Linked DNA regions of Homo sapiens: region 1 is linked to region 2. The links come from fine-mapping of genetic effects on gene expression. Tissue or cell type: visceral fat. Region 2 holds a variant in brackets; the other region holds the start of a gene. All regions are shown on one strand. Distances are between the middles of the regions. Region 1 holds the start of RGS22 (regulator of G protein signaling 22). Region 2 overlaps RGS22 (regulator of G protein signaling 22).

What was found. PIP is the estimated chance that this variant, and not a neighbour inherited with it, causes the effect.
Region 1: RGS22 starts here. The variant in region 2 is the best candidate, but not a certain one, in a credible set for the expression of RGS22 in visceral fat (GTEx, PIP 0.52).

The regions. Positions count from the first base shown.
Region 1 is chr8:100,098,720-100,113,949 of GRCh38, forward strand. It overlaps RGS22 (regulator of G protein signaling 22), which reads right to left and starts at 7,330. Exons shown (of 28, transcript NM_015668.5): 1 at 7,178-7,330; 2 at 6,655-6,683. The coding sequence starts at 7,202.
Region 2 is chr8:100,009,717-100,024,946 of GRCh38, forward strand. All of the region lies in intron 14 of RGS22 (regulator of G protein signaling 22), which reads right to left. Among named protein-coding and RNA genes, the nearest start is that of SNORD77B, 13 kb to the left of the region's middle. The variant C/CT (reference allele first, on the strand shown) is at 6,655.

The DNA.
Region 1 (15,230 bases), 89 kb after region 2:
CTATTCTCTTTTCTCTTCCCTTTCCTTCTCTCTGTCTCTCTCTCTCTCAACAAGTACCCAAAAGGCTTGAGAAGGTGAAGGAAGCTCTGGATGCTCCCCTGCCCCTGACCCCCTTTTATTTTTTTATTTATTTTATTATTTTATTTATTTTATTTTATTTTATTTTATTTTATTTTATTTTATTTTATTTTATTTTATTTTATTTTATTTATTTTTTAATGAAGTCTCGCTCTGTCACCAGGCTGGAGTGCAGTGGCAAAATCTTGGCTCACTGCAACCTCCACCTCCCAGGTTCAAGCGATTATCCTGGCTCAGCCTCCTGAGTAGCTGGGACTACAGGTGCATGCCACCAAGCCCAGCTAGTTTTTGTATTTTTAGTAGAGACGGGGTTTCACCATGTTGGCCAGGATGGTCTGAATCTCCTGACTTCATGATCCACCCGCCTCGGCCTCTCAAAGTGCTGGGATTACAGGTGTGAGCCATTGCGCCTGGCCCAGACTCCCTTTTATCCAATCAATTTTATCCAATCCAATACTTCGAATTATACCTACTAGGCTTAAGACAATCCATTAGGCACAAACACCCTAAGGCTTTCTCCTTGTACAAAGATACTTACAACTCAATAAACTCATTTAAAGCAGAGAGTATCTCACACCCTTGGTCACCTTGTCTCCCATTCTATACTTTACAGGTAAAAAGAGGATGTGGCAAGCTTCTCTAAATCCCAATGTACTTTTAATTCAAACCTCACACTTAAACTATAAACTGCTTATCCTTTTACTGTTTCATATTAAAGGCCATCTCTCTGATCAGAAGGTATGCTACTTTGGGGACTAATGACAATGTTTGTCCCCAGTAGTGTCTAATATGGCCATACCTTGAAAAAGTTGCTTAATGATATACTTATTTACCAACTTATCAATGGGACTGTTAACAGTTTCTGTAGTTCCAAAAAAGCATCAGAGAATTTGATTCCTACTCAGAGTAAAGGATTCCATAGAGATGAAAGAATTCCAAATAGCATAACACTTTACAAAGGACCTCTGGGACCTGTCTTAGTTTCCTAAAGACTTGTTCACAACACTTCTGGCCCCTAGCTCTGCAACCTCTTAAAGAAACAAGAACAGGAGAACGTAGGGGTAGTACTTAGGTCTAGCCCTATCTTCCAGTGTTTCCATATGAAGCTGCCTAGTGTGTCAGCCCCAGTAGGCTCTCACTGTTCATTTAACCCAATTATGTGTAATTTAACATATTTTGTTTGAAAAAAACCACCAAGTGGTCATTAATTGCCAAGTAATTAGTCTTGTTTAGGAGGACTGGAATTATGGACCTTTATTCTATACAGTTGTCCCTTGGTATCCACAGGGGATTGGTTCCAGGACCCCCCACAGACACTGAAATCTGGGGATGTTCAAGTCCCTCATATAAAATGGCATAGTATTTGCATATAACCTACACCCAACCTCCTATGTACTTTAAATCAACTCTAGATTTCTTACAATACCTAATACAATGTAAATGTTATGTAAATGGTTGTTATCCTATATTTTTAAAGTTTGTATTTTTTTCTGATTTTTTTTTTTTTTTTGAGACGTAGTCTCATTCTGTCACCGAGGCTGGAGTGCAATGGCATGATCTGGGCTCACTGCAACCTCCACCTCCTGGGTTCAAGCAATTCTCCTGCTTCAGCCTCCCAAGTAGCTGGTACTACAGGCATGTGCCATCACGTCCAGCTAATTTTTGTATTTTTGGTAGAGACGCAGTTTCACCATGTTGGCCAGGCTGGTCTCGAACTCCTGACCTCAGGTGATCTGCCTGCGACGGCCTCCCAAAGTGCTGGGGTTACAGGTGTGAGCCATTGCACCTGGCCTTTTTCTGAATATTTTCAATCCAAGTTTGGGTGAATCCACAGATGTGGAATCCATGGATATGGAGAGTCAACTATGTTACTGTATGTTAAAATAATGAGAATGTCTTCATGCTTGGGAAATACCCTATGTTTATTATAATTTCATTCAACCTGTAAAAATAACAAAATAGAAATTTGAACAGACTAAAAATTAGTTAAAAATGAATACCACTTTTAACAACTAAAATACAAGTAAATACTGCTTAAAGCTAAAGTTTATCTTAATTTGATAGTAAGATTACAAGGTAGTCTCTTTTTTAACTTTTCCTTTTTTAAACAGCTTTTAATCCAGTTTTAACGTTAATAAAACTGTGGGTTTTCTAAATCAGAAAACCTTCAACAAAATAGATCATTACACTACAATGTTTTTACTCCATAAAGAATTTTCTTTCCTGGATTCCATTTTTTGATGGAAGACTTGATAAAGACTTTTTTTGAAGTCTGGCACACTTACTTGCATAGTTGCAAACTAACTACTTTTAAGGCACAAGAAAAAGATATTATTTTGAATGTAAAAGTCAGGCTCTTAAATCTTCGCTATTAATGCACTCTATTTTAATGATAAAAAAATTTAAGAGTCATTCTCACTTTAAACTTTCTGAATGTGTACCTTACACCTTACTTTAGCTGTAAGTTTAAAGTGACAGTGACTCCTAAATTTCTTTTTTTTTTTTTTGAGATGGAGTCTCGCTCTGTTGCCCAGGCTGGAGTGTGGTGGCGTGATCTCAGCTCGCTGCAACCTCTGCCTCCTGGATTCAAGCGATTCTCCTGCCTCACCCTCCCGAGTTGCTGGGACTACAGGCATGCCCAGCTAATTTTTTTTTTTTTTTTTTTTTTGGTATTTTTAGTAGAGACAAGGTTTCACTGTGTTAACCAGGATGGTCTCGATCTCCTGACTTCATGATCCGCCCACCTTGACCTCCCAAAGTGCTGAGATTACAAGCATGAGCCACTGCGCCCAGCCCTAAATTTTAATGTGTAAATTTTGTAATTCACTCTCACTTTAAACTTTCTCAATGTGTATCTTACACCTAGGTAAAAAATTAAAAATATATACAAGGTATGTGTCCCTAACAAACAAATAATTTATTCTAAATGAGTTATTCTATCCTTTGAGAATGAAGACCCCATGTTGAGGTTCAAATATTATTTTGCAGATGTCTATAACAGCATGGTACTTTTAGATCCACTGAGAAAATACAATATGAAAAAAAAGCTAGTATGAACACAGGAGCACGAAACCAAAAAAAAAAACTACTTAAATAAAATAATAAAATATTTTTCTCATGTAATCAAAAGCAGTTGTAATCATAAGACATTAATCATAAGGCATTGTGGCTTCCCAAATATCAGGGACCCAGGCCCCTCTGATCTTATGTCTCCACCATCCTCAAGATGCCACATCCATCTCATGATTTAAGATGACTGCTTTAGCTCCAGCATCACAACTGTATTCCAGCTGGCAGAAAAGAAGAAAAAGGGCTCATTCTTTCCTTCTACACTTATGTAAGTATTAAAGTTAGAATAGCCCAGCTTCTAACTGTGGCTCAACTAATTACTAGCTGTGTGACCTAAGGGTCCATTATTTGATCTCTATAAACATCAGCTCTCCAGAGAAGTAGGACACAACACTTCTGCCTACATCGTATTGGCCAGAATTTGGTTCTGTGACCATGTTTGGCTGCAAGGGAAACTAGAAAATGTAGTCTTAATTTGGGATAGCAATGGGTCTGATATCTACCATGGAAAGGAGAGAATGGAGTTTGGGGAACTACAGGTCCGTGACACATTTTTCCTAAGAATACGTAATTTATTAATGAAAACAATACTTTCACACTTTTGAAAAACAGGGGTAAATACATGTGCAAGACATGTTAATTATTTAATCTATAGACAATACTTGGTTGAGCATATGAATTTGAGAATCTGGTTATAAACTGCTCTCAGCTAAAAGATGCTCAGAGCTCACAGGCAGTCTGGATGATGTTAGGTTGGAAAGGCTTCATGGAGGAGATTAGCTGGGCCTTGAAGAATGTGCAAGATTGTGAAATAGATGGGGAAGGGCAACTGAGACAAAATTTGACAGCAAAGGCAAGGAGACAAGTGGGGTATAGTTTGGCTGGGGCAGGAGGCATGTGGATGTACTTTATAAATCAAAAACAGTAAGAATGTTGTCTTTATCACAGAGAAAAGCATTGGGAGGTAAGGTTAAAGAAGGCTGAAAAGTTATAGAAAAGGTTTTGAAGGCTAAAGCAAAGCATTTGACATTTTGGCTTTACCAGTTATGAGATATGTGGCCTCAGGCCCAGTTAGTTAACCACTGTGAACTTCGACCTCCTCTTCTGTGAAATGTAGGCAGTAATAACCACCTAATAGGGTTGTTTTGAGACTAAATACTAGCATGTTGTTAGCATTCAATAAATACTAGCTATTAATAAAAGCTCTGAGCAAGCCAGTAACAAGGTAATGTTTTAAAAAATTAATAGCAATCTGATAGCCAGGGTAAGAGTGATAGGAGAAGGAAAAATCTAAAGGTAGACAGAGCAAAGGAATAGGAAGTAATCTAATACAACTGATGCTCAGGAGCTTGAATTTTATGCTTTAGACAAAGAAAAACTGGAGTTGGCAGAAGGAATATTGGAGGCAATGGTATCAGTTAGGATTACTACCAAAGTCCAGACCCAGGGTGGGGGCCTGAAATGAGACAGTAGTTGTGTGGATGGAGAAAAAGATCTGGCTATGAAAGGAGCTTGGTAAATGATTGCAGGCAGGGGATGAAGAAAAGGGAAGAAAGTCTTTGATGTGAGTGACTGAATGGCCAGTGGCACCACAAACCAAAATAAGAAGTGGAGGAAAGACAGCATAGTGTGGAGGGGCCTGGGGAGAAAAGTTCAGTTTAGACTGTTGACACGGACATTCAGATGATAAAGAGTCCCAATAACCGCTGGATATACAGAGCTGGCATTAAAAGTGGTGTCTGGACTGGAGGTATGGAGATGTGGAAGTCCCACGAAACAGGGGTACTGAAGCTACAGGAGGAGAAGAGGAGCTCACCCAGAGAAAGCCCAGAGAACAGAATCCTGAAGGTCAATACTTTCATGAGAAAAGAAAAAGAGAAGCCAGAAAGGGGGAATAATAATGAAAGATAAGAGAACTCGGAGACAGTGAAACCAAGCCAAGAGAAAGGGAATGCCTAGAGTCTTCAGGCTATCATGAGTTCAAGGATGGGGCCAACACCTAAAATAGTGAACTGTTCAAACAGTAAGTGGCGTGTTGTTGAGTAGTCTTCAGCAGCATGGGAAAAGATTTGCTGGCTTCAGAAATGCTCACCTCCTGCTGGAACTAAGAGTAAATTCAGGAAGGCCTGGAGCAGCTTAAAGAAATTTCCCATTAAAAGCAGAGCTCTGGGCCTGGAACAGTGGCTCGGGCCTGTAATCCCAGCACTTTGGGAGGCCGAGGTGGGTGGATTGCTTGAGCCCAGGAATTCGAGACTGGCCTGGGCAACATGGTGAAACTCTGTCTCTACAAAAAATATAAAAATTAGCCAGGCGTGCTGGCACGTGCCTATAGGGACAGTGACTCAGATGGCTGAGACAGGAAGATCACCTAAGCCCAGGGAAGTCAGGGCTGCAGTGAGTTGTGATGGGGCCACTACACTCCAGCCTGGGTGACAGAGAGAGACCCTGTCTCAAAATATGTGCGTGTGTGTGTGTGTGTGTGTGTGTGTGTGTGTATTTTTTTTTTTCTTAAAGCAGAGCTCTGTCAACATGGCCAGAAGATGGAAGGAATTTCTGACTTGTTCTGTGTACCTCTACCTTCAGTGGCTGTGTGTGTGTATGTGTGTATGTGTAGATGTGTGTGTGTCTGTCTCTCCCAGCAATGGACCAGAGCTCTGGAAAGGTGAATGTGAAAGCCACCCGCGCACACAGGCTTAGCCCTTTCTTCTCTCTTAGTCCCTGCTAGACTGTGAACTTCTTGAGACTTAACCTCAGCATCTAGGACCACACTATGACTATACAATCATGCATGTTTGTTGATTGAAAGCCAAAAGCAAATAAGATAATTAGCCAACAAGAGAAGTAAGTGCTGGAAGACATAAATAAATAATAGAAGTGGTTAGAGCTCTTGGAATCAGACTCAGATCTTGGTAGGAATTAGGCTCTGACAGCTCCTATTTGTCTGTGTAACCTCAGGCAAGTTCCTGAAACACTGTATACAATGGGAATTACAATGGAACCCAGCCTAAATGTAGCACTCACCTAAATGACAATGTATAGGATATATTTAGCAAATACTTTTATTACTTCACCTCTCTAGAAGTCTGAAATGGGAGTATTTAGTACATTTGTAAAGGAATGATAAATTGACCACTCTTTATCCATCAACGCCATTTACTTATGTTTACTCCAACCAGGAAATGCACAGCCACATCATAATACAGCCATGGAGATAAAACTTTCCTCTCATGGAGTCATTAAAGAGTTTAGAGAAATTAAATGAGGCCATTTATGTGAAAGAACTTTAATGATGAACAGCATCCACCATACAAATTAATTGGCCCCTTCTTAAAATTATGTGCCAGATAAAGAATTTAAAAAGATCTTGTACACAGTTATTACAATTGTTACTAAACCAAAACTCTGGCAAAAAGGAGGAAAGAAAACACACAGCTTTCTTCTATGATCTAATATTTGCTATTTTTTTAAAGGCCAAAGAAAAAAATAGCCCCTTGAAATGATACTTACAAATTCTTCTTCTGTAATAGTTGGTGGCTCTGAAACAAGACAAAATATTACATTATCTCCCTCAAATCTGATTTCCTTTGAGTAAATGAAATCATGGGAGACAGCACCTAGCCCTACGTTATACACAGGCAAACGTAGCACATTTCTGGCCCTCTGTTCATTCTCTGTACATGGCTTGCATTTTAAGTTGGAATTCAAGGTGGAAGTGGGAAGGAAAGGCCTCTGGAATCCTGCCTGGTCACTAATTCACTGTGACCCAGGAGTTACCCTTCTTCATAGACGGAACCCTCTATTATTCTACGTACAATATGCAGAATTAAGCGAGATAACGTGGTGCCAGCATAAACCGGCGAGGACGTGAAATTCGTCATAAAATCCAACAGGAGGGCAGTGAAGCCCTTTTTTCTCATGTCTGGGAGCGGGGATACCGCTAGGAGGGCAGGAGGTAAAGTCCAGAGGCTGGCGCGTGGTGCGGCCCCGACGCCGCGGGCTGATCCTCTGTCCCTGTGGGGCCGCCACCTACCCGCGGTGAGCCTCTTCTCGGGCATGCCGTCCCCGCTGCCCGCGCCTGGAGCCCGCGCGGGCCGTCAGGGCCCTAGCGCGCGGGTCCAGCGCGGGTCAGGGCCTGAGCGACGCGGCGACGGCGCGCGGGCTCCGGAGCTACGCTGGCTAGCGTGGCCGGCGCCGCGCCGGGGTTGCTATGGAGCTTAGACAATACGGCCGCCCAGGGAGGCCGAGGCCGGCCACTCAGGTGCCTTTCGGGGTTCCCAAGCTGCGACGGGAACACCCCCGCCGCCCCCTACCCTCCCTTCCTCCTCCTCTGGGCAGGGACCAGCGCGGCGAACGAAGGCTGGGGGCGGACGCGCGTGTGGACCCCCAGCGCGGTCACCCGGAAGGGGCGCCCTGGAGACGCCTGTGTCCCTCGAGACTCCACTGGCAGCGAATTCGTTACTGTGGTGACCGCTGCTCAGGTCCGTTATTCCTCCACTACAGCCCGCCAGCAACGGCCAGGGAAACGCGGTGCTCCACGGGAGGGAGAGGCCGCGGGCATGCGGGGCGCCAGGCGGCCAGGACGGCTGGTCCCGGGAAGCGGAGGAAGCAGGGAAGTCAGGCCTCCAGTTTTCCTCATTCCTCAGGAGGCCGGCAACACGTAGCTCTTGATCTCCATCACAGTTGTATGAAATGCTTGTGTAAAAAGTTAAATAATTCGCGGCCTATAGGAACCGCAAACTTCCCCAACACGTGTGTGCCCATCAGGACTGCTGCATTTTCAAGATAGCTAGGCTTAAAAATTACCCGAGGAGGCCTCATGTTCACCTAACGTGGTACCTTCGTCTGTTAGGTTACTCAAGACTCAAGCCAGAAACCTAGGAGCTTTTCCCTGAAACTTACTGCCCGACCCCCAAACGGTCTTATTCAGTCAAGCACTAGGTCCTCTTTATTCTGCCTTAGTGTTTCTGAAATCTGGAGTCTCCTTTGCGCTCCTGCTGAACAGTTGTAAAAACTTTTTAATGGTTTTTCAGTCTTTGCTTCCAGTGGAGTTCAGCTTAAGCCCATTCTCCATGATGAATGCAAAATCATCCATCTGAACGCAAATCTGACCTGTTTAAAACCTTCGGTGGCTTTACATTTGCCTCCTACATTGTAGGAATACTCCAAGGCTGGCAGGGGCCCCACAGGTATATGAATGCTTAACAAAAGAATAAGACAATTAGTGCTTGTATTGCAAGGAAACGTAACTCCCATCTAGTTGTATTCATTGCCTTTTCCCTATTACATAGAAAAAGACAAAAATAAACCACTATCTTGGCCAGACAAAATTAGAGGACCAAATGAAGTGACGGGATACTGGCAGAAGATAATGGAGAGGTGGGAGGTGGGGGGTTGGGGGACAAATCACAAAGGGCTTTGTGGGCCCTTGGTAAGGACTCCAGGTTTCATTCTGAGTGAAATGCAAACCATAGCAGAGTTTGAACAGAGAAATGACATGACTTTACTTCTATTTGAAAGAATCGCTCTGGGTGCTGTCTAGAGAATATATTAATATTAGCATGACTCGAAGCGGGCAAGAGCTAATCGTAGCTCAGACCGGGTGGTTCAGAACAAGCAGTACAGGTTTCAGATAGATTCTGCAGACATTTTAACAGTAGACCCAAGAGGATTTCCTGACAAGTTGGACATGGGAGTAAAACAGAGTAGTTGAGAATGACTCCAGATTTGGTCTGAACAGCCAGAAAAGTTTAGCTGCCATCAACAGAGTTGGGGAAAGCTGTGAGTGGACCACATTGAGAGGGAGAGTTTAAGAAGTCTATTAGCCAAAACCAAGTTGAAAAACATGCTTCAGGATATCATCCAGGAGAACATCACCAACCTAGCAAGACAGGCCAACATTGAAATTCAGGAAATGCAGAGAACCCCAGGAAGATACTCCATAAAAAGATCAACCCCAAGACACATAATCGTCAGATGCTCCAAGGTCAAAATGTTAGAAAAAATGTTCAGGGCAGCCAGAGAGAAAGGCCAGGTCACCTACAAAGGGAAGCCCCTCAGACTATCAGCGGACGTCTCGGTGGAAACTTTACAAGTCAGAAGAAATTGGGGGCCAATATCCGGCATTCTCAACCGAATTTCCAACCCAGAATTTCATATCCAGCCAAAGTAAGCTTCATAAGTGAAGAAGTAATAAGATCCTCTTCAGACAAGCAAATGCTGAGGGAATTTGTCACCGCCAAACCTGCCTTGCAAGAGCTGAAGGAAACACTAAATATGGAAAGGAAAAACCATTAGTAGCCAGTAAAAAAACAAACAAGAAACACCAAATGAAGCACACAGACCAGTGACACTATGAAGCAACCACATAAACAAGTCTGCAAAATAACCAGCTACCTTTATGAAGACAGGATCAAATCCACACATAACAATACTAACCTTAAATGTAAATGGCTAAATGCCCCAATTAAAAGACACAGAATGGCAAGCTGGATAAAGAACCAAGACCCAGATTGCTGGCAAGATGGCCGAATAGGAACAGCTCTGGTCTGTGCTTCCAGTGAGATTGACACAGAAGGAGGGTGATTTCTGCATTTCCAACTGAGGTACCCAGTTCATCTCATTGGGACTGGTTGGACAGTGGATGCAGCCCACGGAGGGCAAGCCAAAGCAGGGTGGGGCGTCACCTCACCCGGGAAGTGCAAGGGGTCGGAGAATTTTCTCCCCCAACCAAGGGAAGCTGTGAGGGACTGAGCCTGAGGAACTATGGCACAGATACTGTGCTTGTCCCATGGTATTCGCGACCCGCAAACCAGGAGATTCCCTCCAGTGCCTACCCGACCAGGGCCCTGGGTTTCAAGCACAAAACTGGGCGGCCATTTGGGGAGACACCAAACTAGCTGTAGGAGTTCTTTTTTTTCATACCCCAGTGGCACCTGGAACGCCAGTGAGACAGAACCGTTCACTCCCCTGGAAAGGGGTGCTGAAGCCAGGGAACCAAGTGGTCTGGCTTGGGGGTCCCACCCCCACAGAGCCCAACAAACTAAGATCCAGTGGCTTGAAATTCTTGCTGCCAGCACAGCAGCAGTCTGAGATAGACCTGGGACACTCAAGCTTGGTGGGGGGAGGGGCATCCGCCATTGCTGAGGCTTGAGTAGGTGGTTTTCTGCTCCCAGTGTAAACAAAGCTACTGGGAAGCTCAAACTGGGTGGATCCCACTGCAGCTCAGAAAGGCTGCTGTGGCCAGACTGCCAGATTTCCCTTCTCTGGGCAGGGCATCTCTGAAAAAAGGCAGCAGTCCCAGTCAGGGACTTACAGATAAAACCCCCATCTCCCTGGGACAGAGCACCTGGGGAAAGGGGCGGCTGTGGGCACAGCTTCAGCAGACTTAAATGTCCCTGCCTGACATCTCTGAAGAGAGCAAAAGACCTCCCAGCACAGCATTCCAGCTCAGCTAAGGGTCAGACTGCCTCTTCAAGTGTATCCTGACTGGGAGACACGTCCCAGTACGGCCGACAGACACCTCATACAGGAGAGCTCTGGCTGGCATACAGCAGGTGCCCCTCTGGGACGAAGCTTCCAGAGGAAAGGTCAGGTAGCAATCTTTGCTGTTCTGCAGCCTCCGCTGGTGATACCCAGGCAAACAGGGTCAGGAGTGGACCTCCAGCAAACCAGCAGGCTTGCAGTAGAGGGGCCTGTCAGAAGGAAAACTAACAGAAAGAAATAGCACATCCACTCAAAGACCCCATATGAAGGTCACCAACATCAAAGACCAAAGGTAGATAAATCCACAAAGATGGGGAAAAACCAGCACAAAAAGGCTGAAAATTCCAAAAACCAGAACGTCTCTTCTCCTATAAAAGATCACAACTCCTTGCCAGGAAGGGAACAAAACTGGATGGAGAAAGTTTGACGAATTGACAGAAGTAGGCTTCAGAAGGTGAGTAATAACGAACTCCTCCGAGCTAAAGGAGCATGTTCTAACCCAATGCAAGGAAGCTAAGAACCTTGAAAAAAGGTTAGACAAATTGCTAACTAGAATAACGAGTGTAGAGAAGAACATAAATGACCTGATGTAGCTGAAAAACACAGCATGAGAACTTCATGAAGCATACACAAGTTTCAATAGCCGAATCGATCAAGCAGAAGAAAGGATATCAGTGACTGAAGATAAACTTAATGAAATAAAGAGAGAAAACAAGATTAGAGAAAAAAGAATAAAAAGGAGTGAACAAAGGCTCCAAGAAATATATGTGAAAAGACCAAATCCACGTTTGATTGGTGTACCTGACAGTGAGGAGGCGAATTGAACCAAGTTCAATTCTCAAACCAAGATCAGGATATTATCCAAGAGAACTTCCCCAACCTAGCAAGACAGGCCAACATTCAAATTCAGGAAATACAGAGAACACCATGAAGGTACTCCTCGAGAAGAACAACCCTAAGACACATAATCATCAGATTTGCCAATGTTGAAATAAAGGAAAAAATGTTAAGGGCAGAGAGAAAGGTGGGGTTACGTACAAAGGGAAGCCCATCAGACTAACAGCAGAGCTCTCTGCAGAAACCCTACAAGCCAGAAGAGAGTAGGGGCCAATATTCAACATGCTTAAAGAAAAGAATTTTCAACCCACAGTTTCATATCCAGCCAAACTAAGCTTCTTAGGGAAGGATAAATAAAATCCTTTATAGACAAGCAAATGCTGAGAGATTTTGTCACCACCAGGCCTGCCTTACAAGAGAAGGAAGCACTGAACATGGAAAGGAACAACCAGTACCAGCCACTGCAAAAACATACCAAACTGTAAAGAACATTGACACTTTGAAGAAACTGCATCAACTAATGGCCAAAACAACCAGCTAACATCATAATGACAGGATCAAATTCACACATAACAATATTAACCTTAAATGTAAATGGGCTAAATTCCCCAGTTAAAAGACACAGACTGGCAAATTGGATAGAATCAAGACCCATCAGTGTGCTGTATTCAGGAGACCCATCTCACATGCAAAGACACATATAGGCTCAAAATAAAGGGATGGAGGAATATTTACCAAGGAAATGGAAAGAAAAAAAAAAAAGCAGGAGTTGCAATCCTTATCTCTGCTAGAACAGACTTTAGACCAACAAAGATCAAAAGAGACAAAGAAGGGCATTACATAACGGTAAAAGGATCAATGCAGCAAGAAGAGCTAACTATCCTAAATATATATGCACCCAATACAGGAGCATCCAGATTCAGAAAGCAAGTTCTTAGAGACCCACAAAGAGACTTAGACTCCCACATAATAATAGTGGGAGACTTTAACACAACATATCAATGTGTCAGAAAATTAACACGGATATTCAGGACTTCAACTCAGCTCTGGACCAAGCAGACCTAATAGACATCTACAGCACTCTCCACCCAAGATCAACAGAATATACGTTGTTCTCAGCATCTCATTGCACTTATTCTAAAATTGACCACATAATTGGAAGTAAAACACTCCTGAGGAAATGTAGAGAACAGAAATCATAACAAACAGTCTCTCAGATCACAGTGCAATCAAACTAGAACTTAGGATTTAAAAACTCACTCAAAACCACACAACTACATGGAAACTGAACAACCTGCTCCTAAATGACCACTAGGTAAATAACAAAATGAAGGCAGAAATAAAGATGTTCTTTGAAACCAATGAGAATGAAGACACAACAAACCAGGATCTCTGGACACATTTAGAGCAGTGTGTAAAGGGAAATTTATAGCACTAAATGTCCACAAGAGAAAACAGGAAAGATCTAAAATTGACACCCTAAAATCAAAATGAAAAGAACTAGAGAAGCAACAGCAAACAAATTCAAAATCTAGCAGAAGACAAGAAATAACTGAGATCAGAGCAGAACTGAAGGAGATAGAGACATGAAAAACCCTTCAAAAAATTAGTGAATCCAGGAGCTGGTTTTTTGAAAAGATCAACAAAGTAGATAGACCACTAGCCAGACTAATAAAGAAGAAAAGAGAGAAGAATCAAATAGATGCAATAAAAAAATGATAAAGGGGATATCACCACTGATCCCACAGAAATACAAACTACCATTAGAGAATACTATAAACACCTCTACGCAAATAAACTAGAAAATCTAGAAGAAAATAAATTCCTGGACACATACACTCTCCTAAGTCCAAACCAGGAATAAGTCAAATCCCTGAATAGACCAATAACAACTTCTGAAATTGAGGCAGTAATTAATAGCCTACAAACCAAAAAAAGTCCAGGACCAGACAGATTCACAGCTGAATTCTGCCAGAGGTACAAAGAGGAGCTGGTACCATTCCTTCTGAAACTATTCCAAACAATAGAAAAAGAGCAAATCTTCCCTAACCCATTTTATGAGGCCAGCATCATCCTGATACCACAACCTGGCAGACACAACAAAAAAAGAAAATTTCAGGCAATATCCCTGATGAACATCGATGCAAAAATCCTCAATAAAATACTGCCAAACCAAATCCAGCAGCACATCAAAAAGCTTATCCACCACGATCAAGTCAGCTTCCTACCTGGGATGCAAGCCTGGTTCAACATACGCAAATCAATAAACGTAATCCATCACATAAACAGAAACAATCACAAAAACCACATGATTATCCCAATAGATGCAGAAAAGTCCTTCAACAAAATTCAACACCCCTTCATGCTAAAAACTCTCAATAAACTGGGTATCAATGGAACGTATCTCAAAATAATAAGAGCTATTTATGACAAACCCACAGCCAATATCATACTGAATGGGCAAAAACTGGAAGCATTCCCTTTGAAAACCAGCACAAGACAAGAATGCCCTCTCTCACCATTCCTATTCAACATAGTATTGGAAGTTCTGGCCAGGGCCATCAGGCAAGAGAAAGAAATAAAGGGTATTCAAATAGGAAGAGAGGAAGTCAAATCGTCTCTATTTGCAGATGACATGATTGTATATTTAGAAAACCCCATAGTCACAATGCAAAATCTCCTTAAGCTGATAAGCAACTTCAGCAGTCTCAGAATACAATATCAATGTGCAAAAATCACAAGCATTCCTATGCACCAATAACAGACAAACAGAGAGCCAACTCATGAGTGAACTCCTATTCACAATTGCTGCTAAGAGAATAAAATGCCAAGGAACATAACTTACAAGGGATGTGAAGAACCTCTTCAAGGAGAACTACAAACCACTGCTCAAGGAAGTAAGAAAGGACCCAAACAAATGGAAAAACATTCTATGCTCATGGATAGGAAGAATCAATATCGTGAAAATGGCCATACTGTCCAAAGTAATGTATAGATTCAATGCTATACCCATCAAGCTACCACTGACTTTCTTCACAGAATTGGAAAAAACTACTTTAAAGTTCATATGGAACCAAAAAAGGGCCCGCATAGCCAAGACAATCTTGGGCAAGAAGAACAAAGCTGGAGATACCACGCTACTTGACTTCACACTATACTACAAGGCTACAGTAACCAAAACAGCATAGTACTGGTACCAAAACAGATACATAGACCAAAGGAACAGAACAGAGGCCTCAGAAATAACACCACACATCTACAACCATCTGATCTTTGACAAATCTGACACAAACAAGGAATGGGGAAAAGAATTCCCTATTTAATAAATGTTGTTGGGAAAACTGGCTAGCCATATGCAGAAAACTGAAACTGGACCCCTTCCTTGTACCCTATACAAAAATCAACTCAAGATGGATCAAAGACTTAAAGGTAAGACCTAGGACCATAAAAATCCTAGAAGAAAACCTGGGCAATACCATTCAGGACATAGGCATGGGCAAAAACTTCATGTCTAAGACACCAAAAGCAATGGTAACAAAAGCCAAAACAGACAAATGGGATCTAATTAAACTAAAGAGCTTCTGCACAGCAAAAGAAACTATCATCAGAGTGGAGAAATAGGAACACTTTTACACTGTTGGTGGGAGTATAAATTAGTTCAACCATTGTGGAAGACAGTGTGGCAATTCCTAAGGATCTAGAACTAGAAATACCATTTGACCCAGTGATCCCATTATGGGGTATATACCCAAAGGATTATAAAT
Region 2 (15,230 bases):
ATAGACAGATACAGATATAAATTTGTACCAAACAGCAAGTAATAGTCTTATTTAAAATAATCTTTTAAGACTTAAAGGGTCCATGTTAACAACAGAAGCATTTACTGAGTACTCCATCTACTGCATCTTAGACACCTGGCTAGGTGCTATGTATGTAAAGATTAATGAACAAGAGTCAATGCCTATTCTGAAGAAGCCAATTTGGTGGTGACATGGAGATGAATATCAATGGTTATAATACAGGACGGTAAGTGCTATAAGAGAGGTATGTATTATAAATAAGATCTTTAATGATTCTTTTAAGCTCATCTCCCATTAATCATCTTTCAAATTTTACATTCAAATACAAAGTTTCTATAATTTCCCTAAGTCTTGCTATTTTGCCATTTCATACCATTGCACATATTGTTCCTTCCATCTTGGATGTCTACACTACCCCACATACCTTGTCTGCTTGATAAACTAATTTAGAGTTTAAAACCAACATAAGGCCAGGCACAGTGGCTCACACCTGTAATCCCAGCACTTTGGGAGGCCGAGGCGGGCACATCACGAGGTCAAGAGATCGAGACCATCCTGGCCAACATGGTGAAACCCCATCTCTACCAAAAATACACAAATTAGCTGGGCACGGTGGTGGGCGCCTGTAGTCCCAGCTACTCAGGAGGCTGAGGCATGAAAATCGCTTGAACCCAGGAGGCGGAGGTTGCAGTGAGCCAAGATTGTGCCACTGCACTGCAGCCTGGCAACAGAGTGAGACTCCGTCTAAAAAAATAAAAAACCAACATGGATTTCCCCTCCTCTAGGAAGCTTTCACTCACATTCTCCCCCAACAATCACAATTTCTGCTGCTATGCCTGTCACTCTATAATGCAGTTATGTATTTATGTGTCTTCTCTTCTAGACTGAGATCCTTGAGGGCAAAGACTGTAGCTTATTCACTGGTGTATCTCCAATTCCTAGAACTGTTCTTGGCAGACAGTAGATGCCATAAACATTTATTAAATTTTCCAAATCCCTAGAAAAGACTCATTTATGTATTGGACTAGGGAAGGAAAGAATTCTAGAAACTCTTCAGAGAGAAGATAATTCTTTTTTTTTTTTTTTTAAAGAGATGGGGTCTTGCTATGTTGCTCAGGCTAATCTCGAACTCCTGGGCTCAAGCAATCTGCCCACCTTGACATCCCAAAGAGCTGGAATTAACAGGTGTGAGCCACCATGCCTGGCCTCCAGAAGATAACTGTTAAGCTGAATCTCTAAAGATAAGTTGGAGTCAATAATCGCACAATAGAGGAGGGTTGATGAAAGACGGCCCAAGCAGAAGCAAAACACAGGTCAATGCATGGAGGCCTATGGGAGCTTTAAAACCTATGGAGGGATTTTAGGCTTCAAGTAGGTAACACTGGCTAAAGGAAAGAGGTGAATAAGAGAAGATACTTTAAAGGGAGGCAGAGACCAGAGCATGAATATGATCTTTTATCCTTTGTTAAGGAATTTGAATTTTTACTTAAAGATATAATGGGGAATCTTTGAAGGATTTTAACTGAGGAGTGACGTCATTGGATGTGATAGTTTGAGTAAGATCAATATTTGAGGCAGTTTGGAAGTTATTTCAATAGCTAGACAAGAAATTATATGCCACCTTCACCTCTTGCTTGCTTTTTTGCAGTAGCCTCTTAACTGGTCTTCCCAGACTCCTCTTGGCTTTCTTACAGTCTATTCTTACCACAGCAGACAGAAAAATCCTTTTGTGCAGCAGTCCTCTGCTCAAACTCTCTAGCAGCTTCCCATCTCACACATAATAAAAGTCAAAATCCTTATAATTACCTATAAATGGAGTTTTTGGAAGTCTCGCAATGATGAGGAGACAAGGATTATAGTTCAGGACCTGTCAGTGGGGAAGTCCCTGTAAACATCCTAAGCTCTCAAAACACCCTGAGAGCAGGAATGGACTAGATACTGACTCCAGCCTCGAGTTTTTAATGTGCCAAAAGAAAATAACTGCCAACATATAATTCTATGTCTAGCAAAAACACCCTTCCAAAATAAAAACAAAATAAAGATGTTATAAATCAGCAGACAAAAAAAGAGACTTCATCACCAGCAGACCTGTACTAAATGAAATATTAAATGGAGGCTCTAGACAAAAGCAGGATGGACTCAAAAACAATGGAAAGTACAAATATGTGGGTAAATATCAATAAATACTTATTGCAAAATAAAATGATAATAACGAATAAAGTCAGAAGAAATAGTAAAAGAACCTGAGAAATAGAAGTCAGAGAGATAAGAGGTAAACCAAGTCAGAGTAATGCTACAGAAGCCAAATGAAGAGTTAGCTTAAAGACAGGAGACAGCAATAAATGGTGTTAATAATATATATTATATATATATATGTAAAGACATTAAAGCAACCAAAGAATCAAAGGTGCTGGTTAAAGTGCAATTGAAATGCTCTACTGTGAGGTCCATGACACGCAGGAAAGCAAACGAGGTCAAAATCAGGGTAGTGATACAGTAATTTGCAGGGTAGAGTATCAAAGAACCAGTGATTAAGATAAGGGAGAAGGGCATGTAGAGTAGTTAAAAGGGAATACTAAAGTTCAGAATATAATAGGCATTCAATAGATATTTGCTGAGTATATAAATAAGAGATGAGTGGCTTAAAGAGCAACAGTGATTTGAAAGGGAAATTTCACAGGTCAAGAATTTAAAGCTGGCAGGGTGTGGTAGCTCATTCCTGTAGTTTCAACATTTTGGGAGGCCAAGGTGGGAGAATCACTTGAGGCCAGGAGTTCGAGATTACAGTGAAATATGATGGTGCCACCGTACTCCAGACTGGGTGACAAGAGTGAGGAGAGAGACAAAGAGGGAGAGACAGTGAGAGAGAGAGAAAGAAAAGAAAGAAACAGAGAGAGAGAGAGAGTTTTTGAAAGTAAACTAAAATAATGTCTTAGGTAAATTACGAAACTAAAGATTAAAATTATCAAATTAACAACATTTAAAAATGTAGGATTTGCTCCAATAATTCCAAATTCACTTCAAGGAAAAGAAAATTTAACAGCCTAAATTACTTACATTAAAAATCAGTAGTCAGGCTAAATTAGGGGAGAAATATTTTTTTGAAATATGCTTTTTTCTTTTGCAATTCAAAACTATAGTTTAAAAAGATCTGATGTGCTACATATCAAATTCTCATATGTTGAGCATTCTGGTTAGTAAAAGAAAAGTTCTCATATAGAAATCAGGATAACGCCTTTGATTTTTTTTTTTTTTTTTTTTTTTTTGAGACGGAGTCAGTCTCGCTTTATCACCCAGGCTGGAGTGCAGTGGCGTAATCTCGGCTCACTGCAAGCTCCGCCTCTTGGGTTCATGCCATTCTCCTGCTTCAGCCTCCCGAGTAGCTGGGACTACAGGTGTCCACCACCACGCCCAGCTAATTTTTTGTATTTTTAGTAGAGATGGGGTTTCACCATGTTAGCCAGGATGGTCTCAAAATCCTGACCTCGTGATCCGCCCGCCTCGGCCTCCCAAAGTGCTTGGATTACAGGTGTAAGCCATCGCGCCTGGCCTGATTTCTTTTTTTAAATGAGAACAGAGAAGAGGGTAAAGTAGGAAAGAAGTTGAAATGGTGGCTAGGATAACAATGACAGCTGTTAGGATTGTCAGCCTTTGGTGGATGCCTACATCTATTTCCCTTCTCTTTTACTCTCAGTCTTGCCTTTACTCTTTCTGTTTTAAGATTTAGTGCTACTCTAAGTTCCATGAGATTATCTACGTGTGATTTAGATAGTCTACTACTATATCTATACTATGGTGGACACTTCATGATGCCCTGTTGAAGCTAAGTTTCTGTATATGATTGTATCCAATTGCCTTGGGCTTTTTACCTTCTTAAATTTTGCTTTATGGTTTTCTTCAAAATAAGTTTCTCTTTATTTTACCACTTACCATATTAGTAGAACAACTTCCTCTCTCTGACCATACTTTTCATCTATTTGTATCTCCTCACCAAGCTTTTCTTCACCTTCAGCACAATCTGAAGGTTATTCTCGTCCTCTAAATAAATCATGCACCAGCTGCTTTATCTTACTTTCTTACACAATTGGGACTGAGAACTGTCCATTATTTCAACTATACTCTTACCAACATCCCTAATTCCTCCCCACTGTATCCTCAAGTTCCTACTAAAAACATAATGACTGACTCCATTATAGACTTCAAAAAAAACTTAGCTGCAATCAAAAAGTTTGTTACATTTTTGCTTATTTCTAATCAATGCCATTTCCCATTTTAAAACTGCCATCCTCTTTAATGCTCCCAACTGTATTCTTACACTTCTTCACTTTCAGTAGACTTTATCTTCCACATAACTGGGAAAAACCACTGGTATAAATGCCCTCAACTTTCCTCTCAAGAGCTCTCTTTTAAATCTTTTTGTTTCTCTGATGTCTCAAAGACATCTTTCCAATCCTAAGCCATTCAGGTGTGCTCGACCATGTTCCTCCAGAGCCTGTAACACCAATTATTTTCTTAGTGCCTTGTTTCTTTAATCTACCTCTCCACTGATTCCATTTCCTTCTTTATGCTACAAAGTTGTTGAAATCTAGTGCCTCTCTCATTCTAAAACGTTTTTCCTGACTCTGTTTTGCCACCTACTTCTTACACTACTTCTCTCTTCCCTCTCTCTACAAGTCTCCATAGTCACTCCTCAATCTATGGAAGTCTGGCTTCCATGCCAATGACAATGAACTCAAAGATCACTAAAAACCACATAATCGCCAATTCAATAGCTTCTTTCCTTAATCTTCATTCAACCTGATCCCTTATGCAGCTTTAATACTGCTTATTATCTCCTCTCTCCTTGACTCTCTTTCCTCTGACTTCGCCAACCCTTTCTCTTGATTCTATGCCAATTTCCGCTTCTTCTCAGGCTCTTTGCTGATTCCTTTTCCTCCATTCCTCCCTTAAAAGATGACACTCACTAAAGTTCTATGCTCAACTACACCTTCTCAGTTCATGCCCCTACAGTTTCTCACATGAGCCAAGCACTCCCTCACAGGATTTTTGTACTCTGCACTCTATCCCTTCTATGCTCTCTACCCTCATCTTCTTTTCCCCTTTCACTGAGCTTCTATTCATCCTAAAGACTCAGCTTCCTTGGCTCCTGAAGTCTGGCTTAAGAATCCATCCTGTGTGTTCCCATGGACCCTGTACTTTTATGTTTTTCCCATTGGACCCTACATTCTACAAAGACAGAGACTGGGTCTACTTTGTTTATTACTGTATCCCTAGCATCTGGCATAATGTGAAATTTAGAATGAGTGGATGAATGGAAGACTTCATCTAGCCCCAAAAATTTAACAATCAATGTGGAAGAACTCCATATATTAATACTAATAGTTTTAGACCTGATTTCTTCCCTGAACTCAAAACCTTTGCTTCTAGCAGCCTACTTTGTTATAGCTACATGAATATCTTCCAGACCCTCAATGACTCAATAATATAGCAAATTATCCTTTCCTAACTTCTAAAGCCTCTCCCTTCCTCCTGTGTTTCCAGTTTTCTTTTCTTTTCTTTCTTTCTTTCTTCTTGAGATGGAGTCTTGCTTTGTCACCCAGGCTGGAGTGCAGTGGCATGATCTCAACTCACTGCAACCTCTGCCTGCCAGGTTCAAGCGATTCTTGTGTGTCAGCCTCCTGAGTAGCTGGGACCACAGGCATTCACCACCACGCCAGGCTAATTTTTGTATTTTTCGTAGAGACAGGGTTTCACCATGTCAGCCAGGCTGGTCTTGAGCTCCTGATCTCAAGTAATCTGCCTGCCTTGGCCTCCCAAAGTTCTGGGATTACAAGTGTGAGCCACCATGCCTGGCCTCCAGTTTTCATTAATAATATACCATTCATAGTATAATTTTTGACTCTTCCCTGCACTCCCCTTTTTTATTCTCTAATGCAAATCCTATGAATTTAATCTCTCCAATGAAACAAGGAGAAACTAACAAAAACAAATATCAGGAGGAAATAAGTAGCATAACTTCCATCTCAAGAAACATCATAAAACTCAGTTTTCTGACCAAGCAAGGCCAGACCTTTCCCAGGTTACTGTCTGCTACCTTTCTTCCTGACCTCACACTCATATTTTGCTCTAGCCACGGGGATTCATGCATATTATTTAGCTACAGAGTCTGCAGTCTCTAGGAGCTATATAATTGGGACAGTCATGTGTCCCTACTCTGGTCTAAGCCTACTGTCTTGGCATAATTATTAATAGTTTCATTCTGAAAAGTATCTGGGTTTAGATGATAAATTATATGGTTCCTCTATATTTAATTGTCATCAGTTAGATAAATTCTGAAGTTTCTCTAAAACAAGACTCCTAGAAACACTTGACACATATTTAAAGCTGAAAATAACGCAAAGAAAAGCAGATGTTAGGTGATAAGAAACAGACATTTGTCTAATTCTCAGTCATATTAATTGAATAGCTATACTCGAATGCCAACATCTCAAACCAAGAATATACAATTTAGAACTTGGGTTGACGCTTCATAGACTTCCCTGTTAAAAATAAATAAACTAGAGAGCAGAGGGGAGGAAAAAAGAAATGAACTAAACGATTGCACCTAAATGTAGGTATTAATTTGCCCTTCCA[C/CT]TTTTTTTTCTTTTGCTTCCTCACCACGTTTATTGAATTATTGTCACCCAAACAATTTCTCTTTGTTCAAGAATATCAACCCCCATCTGACAACCAGCATAATCCTTAAGAATAATACACTCTCCTGCTGGGTGTGGTGACTCACACCTGTAACCCCAGCACTTTGGGAGGCTGAGGCAGGCAGATCACGAGGTCAGGAGATCGAGACCATCCTGGCTAACATGGTGAAACCCTGTCTCTACTAAAAATACAAAAAATTAGCCGGGCATGGTGGCAGGCGCCTGTAGTCCCAGCTGCTCAGGAGGCTGAGGTAGGAGAATGGCGTGAACCCGGGAGGCGGAGCTTGCAGTGAGCCAAGATTGGGCCACTGCATTCCAGCCTGGGCGACAGAGCAAGACTCCGTCTCAAAAAAATAAGTAAATTAATAATAATATACCTAATGCTAAATGACAAGTTACTGGGTTCAGCACACCAACATGGCACATGTATACATATGTAACTAACCTGCACGTTGTGCACATGTAACCTAAAACTTAAAGTATAATTTAAATAAATAAATATTAATAATAATAATACACTCTCCCTACATCCCTGATTCCTTACCAGTCTTTTTTTTTTTTTTTTTTTTTTTTTTTTTTTTTTTTTTAAACAGGGGCTTGCTCTGTCACCCACGCTGAAGGACAGTGGTGTGATCTTGGCTCACTGAAACCTCTGCCTCCTGGGCTCAAGCAATCCTCTTGTCAACTTTCATCACCATGCTCCACTAATTTTTAAAAAATATTTTGTAGAGACAAGGTCTCATTATATTGCCCAGGCTGGTCTCAAACTCCTAGGCTCAAGTGATCCTTCCCTCTTGGCTTCTTGGCCTCCCAAAGTACTGGGATTACAAGCATGAGCCACCATGCCCAGTCCTTTATTGAAAAATCACAGAACTGGAAGCATTAAAAAGGGGCTTGTGAGGTCATCCAATCCATGGCATCCCAAGCCTACATTACACACATTTGTTGTCTTTTGTTGAAGTTGTCTCTGCTGTTCCTCACCTCCCCAGGATGGTAGGGACACAGGTGGTTAAGAGAGTAAGGATGAGAAAACTGAATTCAGTTTGTCAATCCTTTATTAGCCCATACAATAAAATTATAGTACATTTAAACTGAATTATGGAACTAAAATCTGAAGATGTCTTTCTAATAATCCAAGGCAATCTGTAAGTGGATAACTAACAACTGAGTATATATATATATAGCAAATACAAGATATTGTAATTGTATATTTAAAACAAAAGTTTAAAAAGCTAAACAACACACTTAAAATCTTTATAAAGATGATAAAATCATTTTAAGTTGATATAAATTGACTTTAAGATGAAACGTAAAGATTATACTATATGATATATAAATAATATAGTCTGATTATGGGTTAGAAACATTGTTTAAATATCCAAATCATTTGCTTTTTTACTGGCCGCCCAGTTCTTCCTTTCTAGCCACAGAGTAAATAACAATGTAGCTCATGTTAGAGAAGAAAATGCTCCCTTCATATTCCAGTCAGCTACTCTGATTCACATTCAAGCAGAGATTCACTCACACACAGCTGTGGCCAACATGAGTCCAATTTAAACATTAACCTATGATGCTTTAACAACCCAGCAGGAAAGTTTTTGAGAAGGGATACAAGCACTGCCTGTCTGTGATCAAACTGCCTGGCACTGCACACAACATGGCTCTAAGCCTCATCTCTCCTGGAGACACTCAAAGGTTATGTAATCAGGAAATGCACAATGTGCTGCTTTCCCCGCACCTCTCTACACCTGTGCCTGTGACTCACTTTCTTGGCATCTGTATCAAAAAAAAAAAAAAAAAGTAATGCCTGCCCCTAAAAAATCTTTTACAGTACTGAAATTCTGGGAGTTAATTTTCTAGCCTAACTGAACTGTCAATATTACTCGAGAGTTAACAAGACTAGCAAGAAAAAAGATGTAGGATGGATACCATGAGACAGAAGGAAGAGCTGAATTGGAGAGCAGAAAAAAGAATGGAGAAAAAAATTAGAATAAATGAAGACACACACACACACACACAAAAGAGGGTAGGGGAAGAAAATCTATATTTTGATTAATGTTTTGCTTTCTAAATAGCGTTAAAATGAAGAACAATGTTTAATTTATTCTTAATACATATTAATTTGCTGACATTGTTGGGGGAAAAAGTGAACAAATATTCCTGTTTGCATCTTCAAGGAAATCTCAGCTGCTTCATTAATTAGAGACAATATCCTCTATATAATACCTGCATTGTACTATTAATACACATGAGATAGCTCAAACGATTTAAAATACGACATTTCCCATTGCAATTTATATTTTTCCAACATTATGATATTTTTCATGCAAGATTTCCGCACCACTTAATAGTTTCCAAAATCATTTTGAAATTGTGTGTTTATAAGCATATTCTTGGATAGAAGTGAATCCCCATCTCCTTTCAAATGTATCATAATGCATGCCAGACTTACTTTTCCCACATTAATGTTTTCTTATTGAAGATAAGGTCTAGATAAACATACCTGAGAAATGAAAATTGTGTGTTTATTGAATTTATTGTTTTTAACAATGTCAAAAGCAAAAAAAAAAAAATGGAAATGTTTTCCACAACTGTCTGTACTATTTGGATTTCTCTTTGTATCAAAGGCTAAATGATGACAGCTATGGGATTAGATTCCAATTAGCATACTGTAGAAGCACCCAGCAAAGTATTCTCACTGTGCCAAAGGTGAGCACAGGCTTTGGGAAGGCATCTTTTCCATAAGTAGGGGCCATTTGATGAGCTACAGCTTGACACTTATCTGCGTTCCAATGAAAACAAGAACAATTTCTCTGCAGCCTTAAAAGGCAAAGTCAGAAATAATACCAAATGTTGTAACACATGTGTTGATTTGTTATGTTACATTTCAGCTGTTAGTTATGTTAATGGAACAGTTTCACATACTTCGTTTTGATGTATTTATTTTAATGATCATGTGTATGTATCTTGCTATGATTGCCTGGTAACACTGATTACCTGATGTTCTGCTGTCACCACCAGGCCAGGACTGGAAGTAAGAAAGTGAAATGTAAAACTTTGGAACTGTATGACTTAAAATGAGTCCCTCAGTACATAAAGAATAAAATGTATTCAAAACCTATGTACTGTGAGATCTTAATACTAGTTGACAGCACATCTCGTAGAGCGTATCACCAGATTAACTAAAATTGATGACATTTTAAAAGTAGACTTCCAATATCGTATTCCAGAGATTAGGAGAAAACATTCATGCTTCAGCATTTTGTATCACTAATAAGTCCCTTTTTTTTAGACCCATTACTCGACTAAAAAGTAAAAGAGGGAATTCTAATCATGTAATTAGTAAGGCAGCAGAAGGCATTTTAATATGTATCTTTCACATTCTTCTCACAATTTTCCAAGATGCTCACCAAGACAGTATAAGAACTATAAAACCATCTGCTGTTGCAAAAAAAGTACTTTTTTTTTTTTTTAGATGGAGTTTCACTCTTGTTGCCCAGGCTGGAGTGCAATGGTGCAATCTCGGCTCACCGCAACCTCCGTCTCCCAGGTTCAAGCAATTCTCCTGCCTCAGCCTCCTGAGTAGCTGGAATTACAGGCACCTGCCACCACGCCCAGCTAATTTTGTATTTTTAGTAGCAATGAAGTTTCTCCATGTTGGTCAGGCTGGTCTCTAACTCCCGAACTCAGGTGATCCACCCGCCTCGGCCTCCCAAAGTGCTGGGATTACAGGTGTGAGCCACCACGCCCGGCCGCAATTTTCTTCTCCTTACCATCAGGTAGCACTAAGGTTCTGCCTGATGGACTGACAGGGTGGTATTAGCAAAGACCTAGCCAGCCGCTAGGAAAAAGAGATATTCCACAAAAGCCATGGCACTATTTCATACACTCTAAAGACAAAAGAAGAAAAAGCCTTTGGCTACTGAAATATACAAAGCTTTTTCATAAGCTCCTTCATGAAGTTCACAGTAAACTGTGCAGGACCTGGTGATTCTGGAGGAGAGATTATGTGCCTTCTTTGGTAAGCATAAGTGAGTGGTTCATAAGCACTCTCCAAAAGGTGGAAGAAATTTTTTAAAGGTGAAGAGTCAGGATCTCCAGCTGTAACATTAGAGAAAAAATGGAGAGGATTCACAGTGATGCTTTTCTTGTTATTACTTCTCTTCCTCCCTTATAAGCAATGGTTTACTGGAGCCAGCTTGTACCAGCTCACAAGAGCCGATTCATAAACATTCAGGAATTTTGTGAGTCAGTTGTTAAACTCTGTCATTACCAAAAATTAAATCACATAAACTTACAATTAAAGAAATTATGATTCAAGTCCAAAGGCCTCAGGAAAAAAAGAAGTTATATTAAAAACAAAAATAATGACTACTCAAAACTCATTACTTCTTGTTGATTTTACTGTTTTGCGATTAATATTACCCATGGTCTTGAGGTGTATCTGTATGGGGGAAATATTATATGATGGGGTGCTACTGCACATCTCTTCCCAACTCTGCATTCAGTGACGTCACTTTGGCAGCTTGAAATCATCCATGGTGAGAGTATACCCAGAGATCAGCAAATGCTACAAATCAGGGCTGCTTTTTCCCCTAGAGATCTGGTTGTTAAACATTTCTCATCATAGCACTGATTATAAGGCAAATATACTTCTCTTCCTATCATGATCACTAAAGAAAGAGAAATAAAGTAGGAAAAAACAAATGACACCAGCTACTTCAAATATTTACTGGCAGCAAAGCTACATACCAGTATATACCAAGTCACACCAGAATATGCCAATTTATAACAGTTTACTTACATACTCTGTTTAACAGACATCCATTTAAAAAAATATACAGTAAAGGCCCTGTTAATAGTTAGAGTAAAGCTGAACCAGAAGAGGAGGGTCAACAGCTTTTCTTTAAAATTGTTTGTTTACATTCTGAATAGTCCTTATTTAGAAAAGGTCAAAACTAAGCTTCAAATATTACATTTATCCTCAGTCTGATAAATTAATCAGAAGAGGTAAGAGTTTAGTGGGGAAAATCTTATTAGCTTGGCCTGATGAGAAAGTACAAGGAACATATTTGAAGAGGAAACATTAAAGCATTATGAGAAATAGAAATGGTACTAATGGATCTTGATTCAGTGTCTGGACCCCAAAGAGACCAAAATCACTTCACAGATCATCTTAAACACAACAGAACAGATGTCCACTAAACTGTAACAACAACAAAGAAACCATATTGCTGTATGTGATGGCAAATAGCAAAGTAACATGGGATCTGCTCAACTGGGCTCAATAACTCTATGCTTGGACTTTATATAAAACAATGAGATGAACTGTGCTCCAAGAAGCTAAGGGTGAAAAAAAAAAAAAGAGTCCCCAGAGGTGTTTATAAAAGAAATATAAATGCTGTGATACAGGATACTTTCAGAAATCACAAAATATTTACTTCAGCAAAAAGAGAAGTCTGTTTTCATAACCATTCACAGCTCTAGCAGGCATAGAACATTATTATCTGAGTTCATATGCGGCAGAAAAAGAAAATAACAAGCAAGTTCAAGCAATCCAATCTTTTTTTCTGCAAAAGGAGGAAAAAATGATGATTTTTAATGACCTCTCATATCCCACTAGGAGCTCAAAAACATTACTGAGGAGCTATGCCGAGAGCGACTAAATTACAGATGGAGCTTTTCACAGATGGATTTTCATGTGAAGGACCTTGGGTTTTTCAAACAGGAATCTTAAAGATGGGATCTAGGGATTGCAACGTCTTGATACCAAGAGGCAAACTACTGCAGAGATCAACACAAGATGGACTTGTACGAAAAAAGATAATGATGACAAACTAGAATTTTTGCCAATTGCTCAGACCCTACTAAAGAGAATTCAAAGCAAATGAGAGCCTAAGAAAATGCCAATAGGATAAAACAGTAAAACAATTTGAATCATTTGGGACAGAGTAAAAAATCAGAAGGGGAAAATAGAACGTGTTAAGAAAAGACGAGAACAAACCAGGGACAAAAAAGGCTAGGTTTTTAAGATAGATTTGGGTCATTGCTTAAGACATTTTAAGTAAAATCAGTTGAGTGCATGATGAAATAAAATAAACAAGCACACAGAAAAAAAAGTTATTACTATGCAGTTTAAGGCAATCTAAGGAACAAATAAAGGTTTTATTTTATAAATTTTTGGATTTGTTTTTTAAAAAACCTTTAACTGACAAAAGCAAGATATACATTTAAACTAATGGAATTATTTAACTTCTATTAATAAATAATTTCTTGGAAATCAGTGAACAAAAAAATTCAATTAAATTAATTAATTAATTTATTTATTTATTTTTAAATAGGGTCTCACTATGTTACCCAGGTTGGAGTGCAGTGGCGCAGTCTCAGCTGACTGCAACCTCCTAGGCTCAAGCCTAGCCTCCCGAGTAGCTGGGACTACAGGTGCACACCACCAAACCAGGCTAATTTTTGTATTTTTTTTGTAGAGATAGGGTTTTGTTATGCTGCCCAGGCTGGTCTCGAACTCCTAGGCTCAAGTGATCTACGTGCCTTGGCCTCCCAAAATGCTGAGATAAATAATTCAATTTTAAAAACATGATTATATTAAAATTTCTGGCTTGGGAAAAAAAACAAACCTGTTTCACCAGTATGATAATCTATGCTAACAAAGCACACAGGACTGATACATGAAACCAGAGTATCAAGTGATTGCTGTACAATGAAAAATGAGAAAATCAACCATCATTAAGGTTGTAGGTCTATGTTTACCAGCACACCATCTTGGAAAACAAGTTTACATAGTCAGAATAAGTGAAGGTAACTGTATGAACCCTATGAATATTCTCTCCATCAAAATCTTTCAGGCTGACTAGATACAAGGAGCAGACAGCTTAGGACAGTACTTCAAGGGCATGTCAAGGTCTGCCTCTGAGACACTACACCTTCTGGGATGCCACTGCCAAACAATGTCTCTTCATGAGTGAAACATTCTTTCTTTTTCTGTTTTTCTAAGAGCTAGGGTCTCACTCTGTTGCCAATGCCAGACTGCAGCTGGAATACACTGGTGCACTCATAGCTCACTGCAGCCTCCAATTCCTGGGCTCAAGTGATCTTCCTGTTTCAGCCTCCCAAGTAGCTGGGACTACAAGCACGGGCCACCACACCTGGCTAATTTTTTTAATTTTTTGTAGAAATAGGGCCTCACCACGTTGTTCATGCTGATCTTGAACTCCTGGGGTCAAGTGATCTTCCCAGCTCAGCCTCCCAAATGCTGGGATTATAGGTGCGAGCCACTGTGCCTGGCCTGGAAAATTCTTTCTTTACATGTGCTGGCATCTTCATTACAAATCTTGCAGGCCTGTGAAGCCTTTTTGTCTCTAGTCAGCTGCTCATATCTGTTCTGATTTATTACACATTCATTTCCTAGTTCAAATTTCAAAAAGCAACCATATTTTTAGGTTCCTTGGGTGAAGTGGGAGGGGACAGGGAGATTTCATTGCTGCTCCAATACAATTTATTAAGAGCTCCCTTTTTTTGTTGTTTTTTGTTTTTTTCCAAGAAAGAGTCTTGCTTTGTCGCCCAGGCTGGAGTGCAGTGGCGCAATCTTGGCTCACTGCAACCTCCACCACCCGGGTTCAAGCAATTCTCCTGCCTCAGCCCGCTGAGTAGCTGGGATTATAGGCGAGCGCCACCACGCCCGGCTAATTTTTGTATTTTTAGTAGAGATGGGTTTCACTATGTTGGCCAGGCTGGTCTCGAACTCCTGACCTCGTGATCCACCCACCTTGGCCTTCCAAAGTGCTGGGATTACAGGTGTGAGCCACCAAGCCCAGCCAAGAGCAAACTGGAAAGACAGAATGTTGATCATTGCTGAAGCTTAGTGAAGGTATATGGGGGCTCATTAAACTGTTTTCACATAAAATTTTTCTTAAAAAAATAAAAACACTCAGCTGGCTGTCATTTCCAAATAATGACTATCTTTCATTAGGTTTATAATACGTTGCTACAAATATAAACATGCCAATGAGTTCATGAATTTTTTCAATACCTATCACAGCACCTTTTATATGGCACCTTCAGTCCTGAGCATACAAGGTAAACAGAGCAGACTGTCTTCATGGACCTACAGTCTCACGGAGAAAAAAAATATTAAAGGTGATGTTTGACATTTAATGTTCATAAAGATAGTTTAAGATATTAAAGTGAAAGATTAAACAAGGTGATAAACAGATACTCTTTTTTCTAGAGATAATAATAAGAAAGCAATGGCTTAGAAGTTAAGAGTATAGGGTCTGGAGTCAGAATACTTGGTACTAATTCCAAGTTCACCAATTGCTAAATGGATGGCGTTAGGAAAGCATTCAACTTCCCTAAGTCTCAGTTTCCAAATCTGTAAAATAAGGATACCAATCTACCTCTTAGGATTGTCTAGAATTAAATAAAATTATCCATATAAAGTTATTACCACAGAACCTAACAGAAACATTAACGAAACGTCAGGTATAATAGATAATGGTG